3 linked regions of the Homo sapiens genome follow. The protein of the gene in region 3 purifies or fractionates together with the protein of the main gene of each other region. This does not show direct contact. Each region holds a gene or a part of one and is shown on either strand. Other genes may lie near its edges.

Region 1 (7,248 bases), on a different chromosome or scaffold from region 3:
ATTGGCTAACTTTATATGAACCTGTCAGGATACTCACTCGATGGCACAGATTCACTTTCACTATTATGTCTAGAGCTGGTTGACTCCGAGTTCAAACTTAGAGTGCTTGGGATAGATGAAAGTTCATTACAGAGTTGTTCCACATCATCTGGAACCACTGGCCACAGATGTTTGCGACTATGCCTCACAGCATCCCAGTTGTGACATTTTAGAATATCACAGCCTTGTTTGGTTTTAGCTATGAGCCCAAGTACATATACACAGGTCCTGTATATAAAAGATGCAGTAAAAACAGTTATAATTCCAAGCTGAGATTTCTTAAAGCCACCACAGATTAATTTGCTATACATACTTTGAACTTTCTCTAAAACCCACCAAAATGGTTGCGTTTGTGGAAAAAAAAAAACTTATTAAGACTAGTCAGGAATAAATTAGCAGCAATAAAAAACAAGCAAACCTTCCCAATAAAAATAGTAATTACAACAAAATAAAAAGAACACAATGCAACATGAGCAAAAAAGGTATATTAGCTTTTCTAGTATAAATCTGGAACAGCTGGGTTACAGGAATACTGGAGTATCTGTACAACACTATGCCTTACCTGTTACCTACAAGGTAAACTTCAATATAATAAAAATCAAATTATAGTAGTAAACAAGGAGTTCGTTTAGATGTTTAACTTAATACAGTTAATAATCTTGTATCATTAGAACTTTCAGTGGATTAACAGTTATGCATTGCACTTAATCATAAAATACTTTCCCCTAACATCCATTTGTGAATAACAACGTCTACATTAGAAAGATTTCTGAGTTAAATGACCTACCCTCTGATGGAAAGAACTTCACACTGTTTTGCAAGTTTTAGTATATCTGGAATCACGTTTTCTTCCTGTAGCAAATTGAGACCCCAATTTGATGAGCCGATATTTCCCTGAAAGAAAAGAAATCACTTACATCAAATATAAGAGTCACTCTTTCAAAAGATTTGGAAAGCTACCAAGAAACAAATTTAACCTCATCTCTGAGAGAGAAAAAATGTAAAAGCCTCCTCAAGTACAAAACATTAGGCATGAATTAATTCTAGTTGTCTTAGCAACAAAACAAAAGTCATGAAACCAATAGTTCAACCATCTATTCTTCAACATAGAGATAATACACTTATATTGGCAGGAACAATCCAGTCTTAAATATTAATCTAATAAGTAGTTCCAAAGAAAATATTTATCTATTTAGTATAAATGAAAAAAAAACTTAAAAATCTAAAAATTGCGAAGATCTTACAGAAGTGTTTATTACAAACCAAGGCCCAAAGAGATGCTTTCAGTTTTTTAATTTCTTCCCACTTATCCAAATCTGGTGTACGAACATTACGACAGAGTTCTGTAATAATATTCTGGAGAAAGAAAAAAAAATACCATGAGTAATAATATATTTATGTATTTAATATATTATTATTGCATCATAAAACCAGTATAACGTTTGTTTTTTGTCATTTTTGCATATTTAAATTCTAAATAATTTTATGTAAAATTTCTTGAGAAGCAGCATAGGGCAGGGGTTCTGAATTCACATTCTAGAATTATCACTTATTAACTGCATGGCCTTGGGCAAGTTACTTCATCTCCTCATCCTTTGATTTCCTAATATCTAGAAGAGTGATAATAACATTTGCATCATAAGGTTTCAAGATTTAATAAATTATTGCACATACAGTGCTTACCAAAGTACTTGGCACTTAGTATTACTAAATAATCATACTTATTCTTTAAAACAGAAAGTAAATTAGTGCTTAGGTTTTATCATACTATGTAAGTAGTAACACTGAGAAAATCATTTAAATTTTTAGTGAAATTTTCAAATGTTAATATGAAAATACTTGTCCCAACAGTTTTCACAGACGTAATATAAAAACACATGAAACTATAGAGTACATTTATGCAAAACTTTGTGCTCTTGAGATGAATACTGATACAATCGGGAACTAAATTGTTAAATAACTATTGTTCTGTCACAAAAACAAATATTCCTATAACTTTATTTCTAAAATAAGAGAAACGTTACATTTATTGGAAACAGTTGCATGACATATTCACAACCATAAATGCGGTGTACATATTATAACTCAAAGAACAACTGCTTGCCTATGCTTGTTAACATTCCATGAAGTACGCGAGAATAAAATGTGCTCACAACCAGCAACTTTCAATTTATTGCTCAACAAGGATAACTTAATCTGTATTAGGTTCAGTTTAATTTCCCAATGAGTGGAAGAAAAACTCGGTTTTTCAGTACGTTTTTGGAGATCTGAATTTCTCCACTAAACTCTAAAAAAAGAACTCAGATCTTCATTGGATTGCTTACTCTACATAACAAGTTAGTTATTCAAAAAGTCATACACAAGTCAGTTAATGCATTGCAAGGCCATTAATATTTCTCAGGTTAATAAATATAGAATGCCTAAGTCAATTACAAAATAGATGAATTTAAAAGCAATTACACCACTGATATTAAAGCTTTTGAGAAGTTTTTGCAAAGGTAATATTTTAGCAATGTTAAGATTTTGTTTTTTTTTTACTATTGTAGCTACTTAAAATAAGTGAATTATGTTTTTACCTGTACTTCCAACAAATGGCAGCCTGTTTTATGGTGTACTAGTTGTCCATAAAGGTGTATAGGCAGGTAGACGTGAGGACGCTGTAATCTAGTATAATAAAGATGATTACTATATCTCTTGGCTAATTTAAATATGCTAATTAGAACAAAAGAATTTTAATAAATGTTTGATAAATAAAATTAGATACAACTCTCCAGCATAAATAAAAATATGAAAGTAACAAGGAATGAGGATTTCTCAGGTAAAATATAGGCTGGGCTTCCCTAATCCAAAATGATCCAAAATCCAAAACTTTTTGAGCACTGACATGACACTGTAAGTGGAAAATTCCACACATTAGTATTTAATGCAAACTATTTCATACAGAAAATTACTTATAACACTGCATAAAATTATGTTTAGGCTACGTGTATAAGGCGTATATGAAACAGATTAATTTCATGTTTAGACTTGGGTACCATTCCCAAGGTATCTCGTTATATATATGCAAATATTCCAAATCTGAAAAAATCTGAAATGCGAAACATTTCATCATTTTGGATAAGTGATGTTCAACCTGTAACAGTTTATCAGAGCTCAAAGTACTGGTAAGAGAATCTAGGCCTAGAAATACAGACTGGGGTGCCAGCATGGAGTATATGTGAATGCGTTATCAGTAAGGATATTCAACATGCCATGAATGCCACTGAATTTTTGAGCAATTAATGCTGCGCATTAAGATTCTTCCTATATCATGTTAGAAGCAGAATATACAAAAACTCAGAAATGTTAAAAATAATTTATGATGAACTAGTTTTAAATCTGATAACTGGGTACGCACCTTTGGTTACTCCGACGAACATAGTTATCACCATCAACAGGCTTCCGGTAAGTAGTAAGTGCTTCATTGAGTTGTTCCTCAATCAAGTCAACATATTTGGAGTTGTATTCCTAGAGGATAATATTGTTTTAATTGCACATAGTATCACAATGAGTCACTAAATTTAAAATATGTCAGATACTTAGCAAAGGGTAGACAGATCAAGGTATTATGAATGCAAATGTTCTATCATATCCATAAGCTTTTGGCTCAGGTTTCAACTAGTACTATATACTAATGACCCCCATATCTGCCATTTTCCTCACAAATCTGAGCTCCAGATCCACATTTTCAAGCCATCACGTGGTTACTGCACAGACAATGCCAGTTCAACATATTGAAAATTCATTAGCCTAATCTTGAATCACTTTTTATAAATGTGATCTCTTAATAGTGATCCATTATATATTGTCATTAAATTAGAAACCTTATGAGCCAAGTTGGACCTCTTATTTACTGTATCCAATCAGCCCACAAATTCTGTCCATCTTATTTTGAAAATACCCAGAAAATGCGTCCTCATCTAATCAACCTAACTACCAGTGAAGTTCAGGCACTCATCAATTCTTGTTTCTAAACTTGTGTCAATATTTCTAGACTTTACCTTCAATGATCAAAATTCCTCCTCTTCACTGCAACCTGTCAGATTACTAAAGCACAACTCTGATCACTCTTTAAAAGCTGTTAAGGATTCCCCACTATATATACAATTGAAATCCCTTAGGATGATATAATATGGCTTACGAGGCCTTTTACAATCTAGCTTTAATTTACCATTCCAGCCTCATCTTGCCACTCCACACTTACCTTAGTTCCAACTACATTGGAATATGACTTTCTTCATAAGTCTATAATGTTCCAATGATCTATACAGCTTTATTCTGCTCCTTCTTCCGTGGATACCCTTCTTCTAATTTATTTGCCTACTTACTCCTCAAGACCATTTCAAGTATCACATCTACGGCTCCTATTCAACATTTCTTTTGATAATCCCTAAGGCAGAATCATTAATCTCTCCTCTGTGTTCCCTTATACCTTGCATGTAACTTTGTTATAGCTCTTATATTTTATGCTATTTTCAAGCACTGCACCAATATTCTAAGCAATTTTCTAATACTATGATTTGTATAATAAATTTTATTATGATGATTTAAATATCTTCTAGGAAACAAACCTATCACATCTTGTCTCAGTTCTACAATTCATCAAATACTAAAAGACTTCATGCCTTAAGTTGTATGCTTGGAAGTTTTAGTCCATTTAAGGAGTATCTCTTATGAAATATGGTTCAATATAGACACTATAAAAGAATGTGTAACTATGTTAACAAAAAAGAGAAAACAGGATAACTGATCTGAAATGATGAAAAATCTAAAAATCATTTATATCGGTAAAGATCATTTTGACCATGGGTTTCCAAGATGCTTCGATGACTTATAATACTTCAAACAAAATAATGAAGCCACAGCAATCACCAGCTAAAGAAAAGCTAGAAAAGTTGTTTCATATCTTCAAACTACTCCCTTCTTAGCAGGTTTCCCTATGACAGCAAGAAGTTCATTCTCAGATTTAGGTAAAGTAGTATCCTAAAGTAAAGTTTAACTAAATGATTATATCTCCTTGGGATTTCAATCTCCCTTCATTTAAAAAAATTATTTTGGTTTTAGCTTAAAGGGCTCATGCAAAGTTGTAGGCCATATTAAGGGACCGAAGAATGAAAGAAATGATAAACAGGGCCAAAAATTAGATTATAAAATCAAATGAGTTGAGAGTCAAATTTCAATAGAACGAATACAGTCAACAGTTCAGAATGAAAGAAATAACTGTAGTTTAAAAAAATGTATAACTATAAATACTAGCAATTATGCAGAATTTAGGATTCAACTTGATATTGATGTTTAAATATTTAACCTTATTAATTTCAAAACACTGATATAAAAAAACCATCCTCTAAATTCACAAATCAATTTCAGAAGATAAAAACACACAAATTCAACTTTATTCAAATAAGAAGTTACCCTGTGCCACTTTTCCAATTGTTTTGCTACATAACCTCTTTCATTCAGATAGGAAAATCCTTTTGGAATGGAGAGAAATCTGCAAATTAAAACAAGCAATAGTTTAACATTGAGTCTGGCAAAAACGTATCTTAAGAAGCTAAAATAACTAAAATTTAAAAAAGTATAAGGAGCTAAAAGACTTTAGGAATAGTTCGTTCCTAAAACTAAAAGGTCAACTATAATTTATTATAACTTCAATTACAAATAAATTTTCACAATCTTTGCAACAACACGCGAACCCAATCACAATAAAGAAAATGTCAGCCAGGCACGGGGGCTCACGCCTGTAATTCCAGCACTGTGGGAGGCCAAGGTGAGTGGATCACCTGGTCAAGAGTTCAAGACCAGCCTGGCCAACATGGTGAAACTCCAACTCTACTAAAAATACAAAAAATTAGCTGGGCGTGGTGGTGTGCGCCTTTAGTCCCAGCTACTTGGGAGGCTGAGGCAGGAGAATCACTTGAACTTGGGAGGCAGTGGTTGCATCGAGCCAACATTGGACCATTGCACTCTGGCCTGGATGACAAAGCGAGGCCGTCTCAATAAAAAAAAGGAAAATGTCATGAAAAGTATGAACAGACCAAAAAAATTAAAAAAAAAGAAAAACCCAAAATAATGAAAAGACAATGTTTCAATATTAAAAGGTAAACTCTTCAGCGTACTTCCCATTTGGATTTGAATCTATCTTTAATATACACTGCCAAAGAACACAACAAAAAAACATAACAGAAAATTTACTTAAAATTTACCTCAGCAGGAGAAGCAAACCCTTGTCTCCAAGGTGGGATAACGCTGGTTTCATCTGAATGAGAGCATGAAGATTGGCCTAAAAGAGATTATCATTATTTTTTTATAATTGCACAAAAATAGCAAAATTTTTAGTTCCAAAATGCCTATTATATACTTTTACATAATTGTCAAATGAGTATTTCAAAAAAATTTAAGTATTAAATTATAAAAAATGAACCTTTACCTTGTCTTCACATGCTTCATCGAGGATATCAAGAGCTTCAGAGGAAATCGTTTTGTTTTTATCATGTAGCTGGGTCACTAACAACTCAATTCCCCAATTATTAAAGAATTCAACATTAGCTCTCAATAATACCCTTAAATGTTTTGTTGCATAGAGTCTGCAGGCCTATAAGGATAAATGAATACATTAAAAAAAAAAAAAACTTCAGCATAAATAGCCTATTTGATTTTATTTTGGGATAGTCCTGCTACTTGAAAAGGGAAGAATGCCTGGAATTGGTGGTCTAGCCCTTGATATGAATACTTTTTTGGTTCTTGTGAAATAGAATACTTCCCTTTCTATCTAGCAGCTTCTTCCCCCGATACAAAAATCTGAGTACTATATGCAGTTCCTTGGAGAAACTAAAATTTTAAAGTAAACTCAATTTCCATATCATATTCTTAGAACTTAATTTTACTTAGCCCAAAATTCATAAAGTAGTGAATTAATTGGTTATAAATATAGTTTTACTGGCTATGTTATACTCACATCAGTAGCTGCAGTTAAAATTTTGGAAAGGATGACTCTAGCCAATCCATCTCTGCTATAGTCCAAGCTAGAAACAGTAAGTTTTAGCAAGTGATCTTGGTTTTTCAAGGAGCAAAGATTAAGGAGACTTAAAAGAAAAAAAAAATAAGAATGGTTAAAAGAAATTACTATATTGATACATTAATTAAACAAATATTTTTTCCAGCTTTACT
Region 2 (7,248 bases), on a different chromosome or scaffold from region 3:
GAAGAGGAATGGGGAATGTGGCCCCTTCCAAGGCAGCGAAGCAGAGAACATGCAGGTGGAACTGCCAGCTGAAACCTACACTTGCTACTTAAGAAACGGAAAGACCATGTCTGGCTGGGAGTGCAGCGTGCCTGAGGACCAGCCACCGCCCCTCCTCCTGGCACCCCACACTGTCCACGCAGCTCCTGGGCTCTGAGGTCAGAAGCTGGGGTGTGCTGAAGGGGAAAGTGACACGGCCTTGGACACACCACTAGGTCTCTGTTCCTAACTTTTAGTAAGACACTACCCTCGAAGCAAATGCACTCATTTAAACAAATGGCATAGTTAAAACTATTGACTAAGACCTAAACATTTCTTCTGAGAAATCGAACCATAGCTTTTCCAATCTGCCTGTTCAATATGGGAACAGATTTTAAAGAGAGTAACATAATCAATCCTCCGCCCCAAAGAATGGTCCATCATACCAACCATGATAAAGAGTACACCTGTTTATTAAAAGGAAAAACAGAAATGTACATTTTTGTTGTTTGCTTTAAGAAATTTGATCAAGTTGCAAGGAAATGTGTGGGCACGGCTCTGTACATCCTCGGGCAGGGTGGCAGGCATTGAAGGTGGCTGGGCGGCACGTGGCTCCTCTAGGGGGTGGTCTGACCCCCAAGCATCGCTTATCAAAGCCACTGCCAAGCAGACTTCCGTCCCATGGCAATGTCCCCAGCGCTCCCTCCTAGGGGGCCCCCGACACCTTCCCCGAGAGCCCACCTGCCCTGTGCCAGTGAGCCAGGGGCTGGCCTCCCCCCGAGGACTTCAGGACACCGGGTGGACTCTAGGGCACTTGGCCCTGGCAGGCAGGCTCTGAGCTACGGAACAGATTGAGGCTGGAGGCCAGTGTCACTGCTGCCCGGATTTCTTCTCCTTCTGGAAGCTGAAGCTCGTACGTCTGTTCAGTTTTCTTTGTTTTTGAGCAAAGTAGTCAGCCCGGGCAGTGCTAGCTCGCGATTCCAGGATGTAGTTAACCTAGAAACAAGAGCACACAGCCCGGTCACCTTGCCAGCCGCTCCCTACCCACCCAGGGCATCGGAGGGGGTGGCAGGGAAGGCCCTGACCTGGGCCGGGTGCCTCAGGGCCAGGTGCTGTCGTGTGGAAGGAGTCCAGTCATCACAGCAACCTGGCAGCGGCTGGGCCCAGAGCCGCTGCTCTACGATGGGAAAACAGAGGCTTGGAGAAGCCAAGTGGCCAGTCCAGGCTTCCCAGTCAGTGAGCGGCGAGCTCTTCAGGTTCCGGAGCCCATGCTCCCTCCTGGCGTGAGCCACTCCCGGAAGGCTGTGCCCTGGGCTGCCTGGCTATGCCTCCCACCTGCTGTGTGACCTGGACAAGCACATAACCTCTCTGAGCCTGCCTTTCCCTGTGTGAAGGCCGAGAACACAGGGATGAAAAGCAAACCAAGACAGGCTCTCCATCCAGCCTCCCACCAGCCAGGCGCAGAGCTTCCCACCACAGTGCTTCCTTCAGGGCTCATGAGTGCCCAGCCAGGCAGGGCTCACTTGACAAAAAGGAAAGAGGCTCAGAGAGGGAGGCCAAAGTGGCCTAGGCCACGTGGAAGTCAGGGTGAGAGCTGTGAGGGGGCTGAAAGAGCCCTGTGTGAAGGGCGGGGCTGCCTCCTGGGCTCCTCTCAGGCCTTCTGCACGCTGCTGCTTCCACGAAGCCCTGGGAGTCTGCCCGGAGTCGCATGTGCATCTTCCACTCTGTGTAGCAGCTGCACCGCCAGGCGCTTCCCCAGCGCTACAGCGCTGAGACTTGGTCCTGGCCCTGGGGAGCTTGCTGCCTGGTGAGTGGGTGTCCAGCAGCAGAACCAGCACTGCAGCAGGCAAAGAGGAGCATCAAGGAATGGGGCTGAGTATCAGGGAGGTGTGGAGGAGGGAAGGCTTCCAGAGGAAAAGAGTGAGCGGGCTTTTGAGGGATACACAGGAGTTTTTGAGTGCGCAACGGGGAGGAGAGACGCAGCATGCATCAAGGCACAGCAGGGGCACGCCACAAGGGAGTGTCCCTGGAACTGCGAGAGCTTGGCTGGCTTAGTGAAATGAGGTGGTGGGAGCCAGGGAGGGGTGCTACAGTGGGATGCACACGCCCCAGTGCTGAGGACAGCCTGTGCCTGGGCATGGGCGGCAGCAGCAGTGTGAAATCAGTGGTGGCAACTGGCACTGCTCGGAGTGCCTTTCAGCGCTCATGGAATCTTCACAATAATCTTGAGACAGATGCCACTGTCATCCCCATGCACAGGTGAGGAAGTCAAGGCCAATGACAATAATGTCATTTAGTCAAGGTCACAAAGCTAGAAGGTGTCAGGCGCTTGGCAAACACCCCTTCCTGCTCCGCAGCCTCTCACCTCCTCTGCTCCTCTGGCTGGGGCTTTTGGTGAACAGACGCTATTTCTCTTCACCTGCAAGTATCTAAAAGTTTTGACTAGAAGGCTGAATATTTCTGACAAGAGAGGCCAGCCACTGCCTCTGCTGATTCTACTCCGAGGGCCATGTGTCCTGTGCCAGAGGGAGAGGAGCTTCTGCTGACTCCGAGAAGGAACCAGAGGGCTCCCGGGGGAGGCAGCGCGAGATGGCAACGCCTCAGATGGCCGAGGCTTCAACACTGTCCCTCCCAACTTTCTGCTCTGCTGGTTGGAGCAGCAGGCGTTAAAGGCTGGTGCGTGAGTACAGAAGGCCTGACACGCTCTGCCCGCTGCCTCGCCAAGTTACCAGCTGAGAGCAATAAATCATGAGGACCGCAGGGCCAGGTTGATGATTTGGGACAATACAGTGTATGGAAATAAGAGGTTTTATCATTCTTAATACAAGAAATCTTTGGATTATATTGTTTGCACACTCAGCCAACCTAGTGTTTTCAGTGTATTTTTGGCACATATAACTTGACAAAAGCATTTTAAAATGATCCTTAACAAGCCAACTATTTCCCAAATTTATTATCTTCAGTGCTTTGTGATAATCACATAGATAATGTTAATGGAAGATTAATGTAATAATCAAAAGATAAAAACGCCCTTTGCTCTGCCATTAGCTGGTTAATATGCTGTGGCTTAAAACTGGCACAATTTTATGCACTATAGAGTGTTTCATTTTCAACGCATTTTACAGCTTAAGGCATAAAAATATAGGGAGTTTTCATGGTCAATAAAGCCACAGCCTCCATCACTCAATCACGAGAAGAACCTGATTTGAAGAGCCCGACAACTCCTCTGAGATTCATCTCAAAGCCTGTGGAATTAGGGACCACCCATGGCTTAGCTCAGTGACATCTTGATGGGAAGAGGGCGGCTCTGGAGCTTCTCGGGCCAGGTTCAAGTAGAGGCTCCACCCTTGTGTGCTCTGTGACCTTGGGCCTCCATCTCCTCTTCTATAAAATGGGGACAATGTCTACATTCTGGAGGGCGGTCAGGAAGATTAAACAAGATAATGGACATTAGATGTACTGCATGTAGCTGGTGTTCAATAAATGGGAGACGTTCCTATTTCTACAAGCGCAAAAAGCTCGATGGAGGCTTTGTTCATGATTGTTTATTTGACATCAGATTGTGGCTCTTATTTCCTCCCTTCAATTTCCATCTAAGCTCTCATTTTATGTAAAATTCCTGAATTCTAGAACAACAGCATGCATTACTAGAGTCTAAACTGACTCCTCAAGAGCTTCTGATGGCAACAACATTTCTCCCAAGCTCCCGGACACAGGGCTGGGCTTCCGTTGCTTGGTACTGGTGCAAAGCTCACAAAGACACACTCAGGACACTGCAGGAATGGTGGATAAAACTAAGTATTCCAATTGCTATAAAAATCAGAGATGGGGCCGGGCCTGGCGGCTCATGTCTTTAATCTCAGCACTTTGGGAGGCTGAGGTGGGCAGATCACTTGAGGCCAGGAGTTCGAGACCAGCCTGGCCAATGGTGAAACCCCGTTCTCTACTAAAAATAGAAAAAAATTAGCTGGGCTTGGTGGCGGGTGCCTGTAATCCCAGCTACTCGGGAAGCTGAGGCAGGAGAATCACTTGAACCCGGGAGGTGGAGGTTGCAGTGTGCAGAGATCACACGACTACACCCCAGCCTGTGCAACAGAGTGAGACTCTGTCTCAAAAAAAAAAAAAAAAAAAAAAAAAAATCAGAGGTGGGAGAAGTACTATCTCATCTTCCATCAGGCTCATGATCATTAGCTCTAAGTAAATCAGGCCTAGGGTATGCTACAACTCTTCTGGAGTCTTGTGCATGACACAATATTTCTGCAAATATTTTGATATGGAAACAGACACTTTAGGGAAGGTGACAGACCTCACGGATTTTGCAGAGAAGCATCTGCTTCGAGGGAGCATTTGGACCTGTAAAATGATTTCTCTGCACTTGATCTTCCACAGTCTCATACTGAAGTCATAAACCTGTGTTTCTGTCATCAATCTGCTGTTGTGAAAATTATTTTGATGTCAAACATGGGATTATAATTTTACTAGAATCCTTCTCAAGTCTTGAATATTTTAATGCTGGCTATAAAAAAAAAAAAAAAAAGTCCAGCCCCTATCGGGGTAATGGAATATTTCTCTGCCAGGTCCCTGAACACTCTGCACAAGGGGCCCGTGCTGTCTGTGATGCTCCAGTGGGTAACTCGAAGCTCGCTGGCTGCAAGCACTCCCAGGCAGGCCCGTGTCCCCACTCCTTGGTCCAAGGAGGGGCTCTGATCAGGCTGGTCTATGAACCCTCTCCCTTTCATCCAGCTAATCATGCTACTCTGTCTGCTCCAAACTGTCCTTCCAGCTGCTCTTTTAAATTGCTACCTACTCCTTTTGAAAATCTTTTGCAGCCATGGGGAATGTGTCTCAATATATTCCTGGATCGCAATTCTATTTCATTGAAATCTCCCACACAACTCTTAGGTCATGCATATCTGGGGAATTAAAACACAAGTCTGAAATCTGTCAAATCTGGGGGCAAGTTCTGGTTCTGCCAACTTACCAGAGTCATGATCCTGGCTCTGCTACTTTATTCCTGATCCTCACTTTTCATCTGGGAAATGGGAACAACTTTATCTCATGATCTCACAGAGCTGTGAAGATGCACTGTGATGGGACACGTGGAGCCTCTGGCCCAGGTCCTGCACTGTGCAGTCCCTCAGCATATCTTCGCTACTTCTGCTATTATGTGATGACTTCAACTCTTCAGAAGAGACTGAATGATAACTTACATAGGTTTACCATGTCTCATCTGATTTGTACTCTAGCAGCCCTGGTGGGGTGGGGTAGCATAGGTACTATGATCCCCACTTTACAGGTGGGGACACTGAGTCCCAGAAAGGTGATGTGACTAGCCAGGGTCACACAACTAGGGGTGGGGGAGCCCTCTCTGGTCCTCGCCCCTGCTCTGCCACAGCAGCTGCTTTTCCTATCTGATCAACCTATGGAAGATTTGGCTTGAAGAAAGGATTCTCTGCTTGGGAGAGGCTGAGACCCCTAGTCCAGGGCTACTCAGAGTGTGGTGCCCAGACCAGCGGCCAAAGCAGCATCTGGCGCTTCTTGGAAACGTATGATCTCAGGTCCTATCCCAGACCTCCCAAATCCGCAAGACCCCTGGAGGCTCCCATGCCAAGCAGAGCTCCTCTCAGCCACACTCCACTCTGCAAGGCCCTGCACGGCCTAGCCCCGCCAGCCCCGCCAGCTCCCCCAGCCCCCCCAGCCCCCCATCCCCCTGTGCCTGCCTTGCCTCAGCCCATTCCCAGGCTGCCTGTCTGTGGTGCTTCCTCTCTCTTTACCTGGTCAACATCTGTGCCTTTTCAGTCATCCTTCAGGGTTCAGCTCTCCCTGCCTCCATACCTCCACCCCAAGTCAGTTTACTGTGACACACCCACACCTTTGAGACTAACGATCTCTTTGTAATTTTGTGTTTTATGCCTGTTTCCTCTGGTAGAGGAAAAGCTCTCCAGGGGCAGGGACAGAGTCTGTCACCGTGGCATCCCAGGCCGTGGCCAGGCACACGGAAGGTGCTCAGTGAGTATACTGTTTAGGTATGGTGACATACAAGTCTAGCAGAAAGTTAGGTATGTTTAGAACAGGTTGCTAAAATCACCTTCAGCATAATTATCTTCAAAACAATAATAATTTCCTCAGAGTCTGCTCCAGGAGCTTCAAGGAGCTCCTGACAATGGTTGCAGGAAAATAAACAGTACATAAAAGGAATAAACAAATACAGGAAGAGCCAGGGTTATTGGGATTGGGAGGAAACTGAAAAGGGTCCTGCTTTGACTGAAGCAGGTGCAGAGCAGCTGAGCGGGGGCTGGTGTGGCCCTGGCACAGGCACTCACCCCTGGGTGGCTGGCAAGCTGCGACACTCCTCCTCTGCCAAACTGGGCCCGGGAACCTTCTATAGAGCTGCGGAGTGGGTGGGGCTGCGGCCATGCCGCAAACAGCCTGAAGAGAAGCTGGACCCACCTACCCTGTCTCTGGTTCAAGAAGGAATACTCACCTTGAGCACAATTTCATTGACGGTAGCAGCGTCCGATTCAAAGTAGAGGTGTTTATAGTCGTGATTGCTTAGATACGTGAGTTTAAATATTGCGTGACCTGCAGAGACAGAAAACTGTGTTGAGGGGTTCTGGTGAGTTAACTATGGCGGGGGCCTCCATATGTTCTCCCCTATCATTCCAATTCGAGCGAGAGCAAGTGGAGGCTGAGCAGCACCTAGTCTTCCCAGGAGTAGTTCGTTTTCTCATTACAGGCTGGGTATAAAATGGACAATGAAAAAATTTTAAAGACTCAACAGCCAGTTAGGTCCCATTCCACTCTGGAATGCATTCAGGGGAATGCCACGTTAGGAAGGCTTTACGGAACTGCTGCTATATGATAATTACATGCAAAAGGTGGCGTTTTTAAGGGAGAAGGCTAATTAACTCCACATTATTACTCTAAAAATAAACTAACTGTTTAAAGTCAGATAAATGAGCAACAGGAAGGAGAAGGGTCAAAAGCCACACTATTATGAGGCTGCTCCACAGCCTGGGCTCCTGCTGGGAGAGGACTCCTGCCTGGAGAGGGAGAATCCCAGTTTTAGACCCTGCTGGAAGCTGCTCCCAAAGGCCTCAGGTCATCTCAACCCTGGGAGGATGGGGGCGGGGGGGGCACCATGGAAAGTGGGCACCTCACAAAGCGACCGACTCCAGGGGGCAGAGCTTCTGAATATAAATCTGATCTAGGTCTCCATTCTCCATGCCC
Region 3 (7,248 bases):
TCACAAGGACAGAAAACCAAACACCACATGTGGGTTTTGAACAATAGGTGGGAATTGAACAATGAGATCACTTGGACACAGGGCAGGGAACATCACACACCAGGATGGGGGGCTGGGGGAGGGATAGGAGAAATACCTAATGTAAATGATGAGTTGATGGGTGCAGCAAAGCAACATGGCACATGTATACCTATGTATCAAACCTGCGCGTTGTGCACATGTACCCTAGAACTTAAAGTGTAATAATTAAAAAAAGAAAATATGGTACATATACATAATGGAGTACTATTCAGCCATAAAAAAGAATGAGATCCTGTCATTTGAAAGGAGATTCCTGGCTAAGTGACATAAGCTAGGCCCAAAAAGACAAAGTGCCAGCACCTTTATACACATCTTATGTAATTCAGTCAGTCCTCACAGCAACCTTACTTTACTTAATAACAGCTTTATTGAAATATAATTCATATACTAACTCAGTCCATTTAAACTGCTATAACAAAACGCCATAAACTGAATGGCTTATCAACAACAGAAATTTGTTTCTTACAGTTTTGGAGGCTGGGAAGTCCTAGATCAAAGCACCGGCAGATTCAGTGTCTATTGAGGGCCCACTTTCTGGTTTATAGACGGTGCCTTCTTGCTGTATCCTCACGATGGAAGGGGTGAAGGGTCTCTCTCCAGCCTTTTCAGTAATGGCAAAAATCTCATTCAGGAGGGCCCCACCCTTATGACCTAATCACTTCCAAAACGTCATCACATTAGTAATTCGGTTTCAAAAGATGAATTTCAGGGGGACGTAAATATTCAGACCATAGAACCTACCATACAATTCAACCATTTAAAGTATACAATTCAATGGCTTTTAGTATATTCACAGATAGGTACAACCATCACCACAGCAAATTTTAGAACACTTTTATCACCCCAAAAAGGAAACTTCATACCCATTAACAGTCACTCTCCATTTCCTCCCTTCCCACTCAACCCCAGCCCCTAAAAACCACTTATCTACTTTCTGTCATTATACATTTGGCAATTCTGGACCTTTCATATAAATGGAATCATATAATATGTAGCTTTTTATGACTGACTTCTTGCACTTAGCATAGTGTTTCAAAGGTCATCCATGTTGGATCCTGTATCAGTACTTCATATCTTTTTAATGTGACATAATATTCCTGTGTGTGAATATGCCAAATTTTATTTATCTCTTCATTAGTTGATGAACAGTTGGGTTGTTTCCACCTTTTGGCTATTATGAATAATGCTGCTATGAACATTTCTAAACGAATTTTTGTGGCAACATGTGTTTTTATTTCTCTTGAGTATATACCTATGAGTGGAATTGCTGGGTTAAATTGTAACTCTGTGTTAACCTTTTGGGGAATGCACAGACTGTTTGCAAAGCAGCTGCATCATTTTATATTCCCACCAGCAGCACATGAGGATTCCAATTTCTCCACATCTTCTCCCACACTTGTCATCTATTTTTAAAAATTATATCCATCCCAGTGAGTGTAAAGTGCGTCTCATCATGGTTTTCATTTGCTTTTCCCTGATGGCTAGAGGGAGATTATTACCATGACTTTCAATGTACAGATGAGGAAACTGAGGCACAGAGAGGGTAATTAATTTATATATCATGGCTTAGTAAGTGTCCAAAATTGTGTGTGTACAACAGTACATGCAGAAGGAAGTTCGCTGCAACACTATTTGTGAAAACAAAAATTATAACTGTATGTTTACTAGCAGGGGTTTATCCCTGCAGAGAACCATTATGCAACTATCAAAGAATGAGGAAGGACCATTCATGCTGACACAGAATGAGCTCCAAGACATGTTGTTAGTGAAAAAAGCCAGCCACAGAATCATATGTACAGCACAAACCTGTTTGTATTAATACATATATGGATTGGAAGGCTCCTCACCAAACTGTTCACAATATCCCCTAAAATAAAAGCTCCATGAGAGCAGGGATTTTTGCCATTTGGTATATGGTGAATGGCTGTATTGCCAACCTTCAAACAGCATAGAATAACAGCTGAATCTGTTGTTAAATGAACAATTCCTTGAGACAGAGGAATGAAAGGCAGGAACATATGTAGATGAACCCATTTTATTCTGCAGATCCATGTCCTCTACACATGAATTCATGTAGTAGTTATATTATTTTTGACACAGAAAAAAATAATGAGGAATTCTTGAGGCCTTTAGCAAGAAAAAGATGAGGTCCCCAGAGAGTTGGTATATAACTGAGGAATGGCCTCAGTCTCTTCTGAGGATGCTGCGAGGACCCTCCTGGGCCACAGTGTCCCTCATTTCAAGTGAGTGCAGCTCTCACCCAACTGAGCTCCACCTCTTAGGGTTGAATTGGGGTTGATTAGCTGGTGGGGCAGACACAGGCCTGCTCCTGCCCTGCTGGACATCCCACCCTGATCAATAAGCCACTCTTTCAGTTAACAGAAATCCAATGTTGGGTTGCTAGCAGTGAATCTTGTTTTCATGCCTGAGAAGATCTTAAAAATCAATAAGGATTAGAGGGACATGACCATGTATTGTTCGTTCTATTGTTTTTTCAATATTTGTTTAATTTTTCATTCCAGTTAAGCCCTCTGAAGAGGCCCAAGGATCAAGGGCTTCTTGTGAAACACAGACAGGTGCATACGTCACATCACTCAAGGCTAATGGCAGGTTAGTGAGTTGAGAGACAATTAGGGAAGGGACCAGGAGCTGTGGTTTGACTCTGTTTTTCCAGTCAAGTCAGGATAAAGGAATGATCTCTATTTTATAACAGGTGCAGATTAAAAAATTCAAACAGTGAAAATGGCAAGTTGCACCAAAAGTGAGGATTAGTGGAAGCCAGGAAAGAGATATGTAGGTTGGGTGGACAACAGTCTGCTCCTCACAGTTGAAGGGGATGTTATGGTTCTGATAATGTCTTCTCGATTTTTTTATGAGCAAGGTATCTCCACATTCTCTTACTCTAGCCCTTTTCTCCTGCCAAGAAGGCACAGAGCTAGGTGTTCAGTGGGGTATGGATTGGGCATTGTCTTTGACTTCCCTGACACAACTGTTCAAGTACCAAGTCCTATAGATTTCACTCCAAAATAACTTTCTATTACATCTATTTCTCTCCATCACCACTGTTATTGTTTTAGTTCAAGTCACCATCACCTTGAGTCTGGATGTGTACGGTTGCTTCCTAAGCTGTCTTCCTGTCTTGAGGAAGAGTCCTGCTTCCCTCCACTTCCTTCTCCACACAGAGAGACTAAACTCAAGAGGCAGTGTTGCCTTGCGATTAGGGCAGCGTGGGCTCTGGAGCCAGGATGCCTGGGCTCGAATCCTGACTCTTCCAGATATGTGACCTTGAGCAGGTGACTTCACTCTTCTGTGCCTTGGCTGGCTTCTCTCATAAATAGAGGTGCTAATCTGCACATCCTTGATAAAGTCATGGTGAGGATTAGGCGAACTCATATAGATGAAGTGCTTAAAACAGGGGCTGCCAGATCCTAGCAACTGCACACACGTGAGCCAGCATCTTTCTTTTTTATTTTTATTTTTATTTTGAGACAGAGTCTCGCTCCGTCACCCAGGCTAGAGTGCAGTGCACTGCAACCTCCACCTAACTGCAAGCTCCACCTCCCAGGCTCAAGCGATTCTCGTGCCTCAGCCTCCCGAGTAGCTGGGATTACAGGTGCCCGCCACCATGCCCAGCTAATTTTTTGTATGTTTAGTAGAGATGGGTTTTCGCCATGTTGCCTAGGCTGGTCTCGAACTCCTGAGCTCAGGTGATCTGCCTGCCTTGGCCTCCCAAAGTGCTGGGATAACAGGTGTGAGCCCCCGCACCCAGCTGAGCCAGCATCTTTCTGAAATGAAGCCCCCCTAGTTATGCTGTGGTTGGGACAGAGTCCAAACTTATAAGACTCTATAGGACCTGCCTACCTTTCTCTTCCCATCTCTTGGTGACTCTGCTTCACATTTGACACTCACGTTAAATGTCTTTTTGTTCCTCTAGCAAGACAGGCCAGCAGGCCTACACACAGGCTGTTCCCTCTCTGCCTAGTACATTCTCCCCAAAATTCTTCCCCATCCCCGCTTCAAGGATCACTCTTCCTCAGGTCTTAGATGCTGTTTTCTTTAGAAGCATCCCTCATGCATCAAATTCTGATTAGAGGCCATTCATTGTGTTCCTGTGGTACCCTTACCTCCCATCAATGCGCTTGCTACTTTGTATTTTCCAGTTTTTACTACAAAATATTTCACACAGAAAAGCCAAAAGCACAGTGCAATAACAGTACAGTAAACTCCCATATACTCCCAACAATTGGTAACGTTTTGCCATATTTGCACATTCTCTTTCTGTCTCTCCTTCTCTCCCTCTGTATTTATTTGTTTCCAAGTAAATTACAGACATCATGATATTTCACTCCTAAATATTCCAGCTTGCATCTCCCCAAAAGAAAAAAAGATGAGGGGGTATTCTCCCACCTAAAACACAATAATTTCATCACACCTTAAAAAATTAATAATTCTCTAATATCACTGAATGCTTGGTCTACATTCAAATTTTCCCAGTCATTTTCCAATTCTCTCTTAGGGTCTTCCTGCTCCATTGCATTTGAATTGCTCTTTCATTGGCCCAAGGGCTCTGTAAGGAATGGAAGGTGTCCCCTCTGCTCTCCTCTCCCAGCACGCAGCTCAGGGCAGCCCCTCCGTATGTTTATTAAAAGAAAGGACAACACCCCGACCCCCCATGCCCCACTTCCTCCAGCTGGGAAGGGTCCTCGGCCCCCTACACACACACTGACCCATCATGGCATAGCATCCCTTCTGTAGTTCAAGTCAGAAACCTGAAAGACATTCTAGACCAACCCCTCCCTCAGGTGGCTGCCACTCTCTCCAGCTTAACCCCTCCCCATTCCCATGATCTCAGCCAGGGCTTCGGTTCTGCCCTTCATCTTCCCTCACCCCTCTCCCTGAGCCTTGACGCCTCTGATGCTCAAGTGTGTCCCCGTCCTGCCTCAGAGTTCCCTCTAAAAGACAAACCCACTCTGGTCACAACTCTGCTTCAGACCCTTCTGTGGCCCTCCCAGGGCCCAACCTGCCTACCAAGTTCCAATTTGGAAGCTCCTCCACCTTCTTCCTCCTCCCTCTTCTGACCCCTGCCCTCCCTTGACCCCGGCCTGTGCTTGAGCAGTTCAAAACCATCCATAGATCTCCAAGCACACCATGCTTTTCCATGCCTCCATGCCCTCTCCCTGAATCGCCCGCTTCCAGTGCTTTACCTTTCTCTGAGAACTGGAGAGAAGCTCAGACATCATTTTTCCCAGGGCCCATTCAATGACCTGCCCTTTCCTGGCAGAGAGCCCACAAAAGTCTTGGGCACAATAAATGTTTGTTAAATAATTGCTGAGTGGGTGAACAGAAATATCATCCTCCCCTTCCTCACTGGACGGAGACAGCTGCAGCTCCAGCCCATCCCAGGCCTGTGCCCTGGGCCCCAACTTCAGCCCGGCCCAGCCCAGCCCAGCTCTGCACGGCTGCCAGATGAACCTGACACAGCCTTGGCAGGCAGCCTCTGAACCACTGCCAGGCCCATATGTAGCTTTCCCTTTCCTAAGGAAGAATGGGCAATGACAGGCTTGGGCTTCTTTATTTGTAAAGAAAATAATTAAAAATCTAAACAAAAAAGAGGATTTTTTTTTTCTTTTAAATAGCTTCATATTCGGAAGTCATCTTTAGGTTAAGTACCTCCTGGGAGCTAGAAGGTGAGATGATATGGCCCCTTCTGCCTTGAATAAAATTCTCAGAATGCAATATTGCTGATATAGTTTGAATGTTTGTCTCCTCTAAATCTCATGTTGAAATGAGATTGCCAGCATTGGAGGTGGGGTCTAGTGGGACATGTTTGGGTCACGGGGGCAGATCTTTCATGAATGACTTGGTGCTGCCCTGGTGATAATGGAGTGAGTTCTTACCCTGTAAGTTCACAAGAAAGCTGGTCATTTAAAAAGAGCCTGGCACTCTCTTGCACCCTTTCTCACCGTGTGACATGCTCCCCCCTCACCTTCTGCCATGAGTAAAACTCCCTGAGGCCTCACCAAAAGCTGAGCAGATGCAAGTGCCATGCTTGTACAGCCTGCAGAAACGTGAGCCAAATAAACCTCTTTTCTTTAAAAATTACCCAGTCTCAGGTATTCCTTTACAGCAACACAAAACAGACTAACAGAATTGCTTTTATGCATTTCTACAAAAAAAAAAGATATTTCACTTGTACTTCATTATTCTGCTGATTAAATTATAGTGGGGCAGGGATGGAGGACTTTCAAGCAGTCAAAGACTTTCCTGGGTACACAGAGCTCATCTCACAACATACTTAAGAAAGCTCCTGATGCACCTGTCACTCCTGTTGCCAGCCCCTGCATCACAAGTGGTGCAAGCAGCGATGAAGTGTTTGTCGTTGTTGTTGTTGTTGTTGTTTACCTTTATAGTTTTCTGCTAAGAAGAAAACATTTTAGCAGCACAGACCAAACTCCAGTAGGTAAAAGCTCTAAGAAGCCTGGATGATGAAGGCCCAGAGAAGTAAATAATGAAGTGGGTTAAAGCTTGAATCTCTACTCCCCTCCCCGCCACTCGCTGAATAATCTCTTTTGGGTGAATTCGTTAACCTTTCTGAGCTCCAGATTCCTCTTCCATATGCAGAAGAACTCCTAGGGTTCTTTATGAAAACTAAATGAGATGCTATTTGTGTAGCAGGATGTAAAAATGACTATGGTCTCAGTTCAGGTATTGCCAAGGACAAAAGACATGTTTCAAAGTGAGCTGTGACACTGAGGCCATCATGCAGGGCTGACAAAAGAAGTGGCACGAAACTGGTTTCCCTCTTAACTGACCATCTTCAGCCCACAAAGAAAGCTGGGTGAGAAGAACAGTTGGTGGTGTAGAGGAGGAATTTTGGAGAAAGCAATAGGAGCACTCCAAGTCCCAATTGCCCACTACCCACCCTCCAAGATTGGCCTCCAAGATGCTGTGTCCCTGGAGGTTGACTGTCACTGAGGGCTGATGTCTGAATCATGTCTGTGAATCCCAAAATACAAGAGAGATGGAGTGATCAGCTGGAGTGGAGAGAACGTGGTAGCTTTGGATTTCCTGGGATAATGAAACGAGCATTTTCCATAAGCCAGAGATGTACTGTGGCCAACCTCTGGGATGTGTAGGTCCTTCTGACAAGGACCACCAGGAGGAATG

Evidence for each region.
Region 1: the proteins of PRR5L (region 3) and RICTOR purify together in Homo sapiens (affinity purification with western blotting; 3 studies listed by BioGRID and IntAct, with this or other methods). This does not show direct contact.
Region 2: the proteins of PRR5L (region 3) and MAPKAP1 purify together in Homo sapiens (affinity purification with western blotting; 2 studies listed by BioGRID and IntAct, with this or other methods). This does not show direct contact.

Annotation. Positions count from the first base shown.
Region 1 is NC_000005.10:38,952,159-38,959,406, forward strand, and holds part of RICTOR (rapamycin-insensitive companion of mTOR), read right to left. Parts: intron 7,164-7,248; coding exon 7,037-7,163; intron 6,674-7,036; coding exon 6,509-6,673; intron 6,362-6,508; coding exon 6,285-6,361; intron 5,573-6,284; coding exon 5,494-5,572; intron 3,547-5,493; coding exon 3,437-3,546; intron 2,704-3,436; coding exon 2,616-2,703; intron 1,396-2,615; coding exon 1,303-1,395; intron 934-1,302; coding exon 827-933; intron 268-826; coding exon 38-267; intron 1-37. UniProt on the Homo sapiens protein: Component of the mechanistic target of rapamycin complex 2 (mTORC2), which transduces signals from growth factors to pathways involved in proliferation, cytoskeletal organization, lipogenesis and anabolic output.
Region 2 is NC_000009.12:125,437,999-125,445,246, forward strand, and holds part of MAPKAP1 (target of rapamycin complex 2 subunit MAPKAP1), read right to left. Parts: intron 6,601-7,248; coding exon 6,503-6,600; intron 1,015-6,502; coding exon 889-1,014; 3' UTR 1-888. UniProt on the Homo sapiens protein: Component of the mechanistic target of rapamycin complex 2 (mTORC2), which transduces signals from growth factors to pathways involved in proliferation, cytoskeletal organization, lipogenesis and anabolic output.
Region 3 is NC_000011.10:36,299,108-36,306,355, reverse strand, and holds part of PRR5L (proline-rich protein 5-like), read right to left. Parts: intron 1-7,248. UniProt on the Homo sapiens protein: Associates with the mTORC2 complex that regulates cellular processes including survival and organization of the cytoskeleton.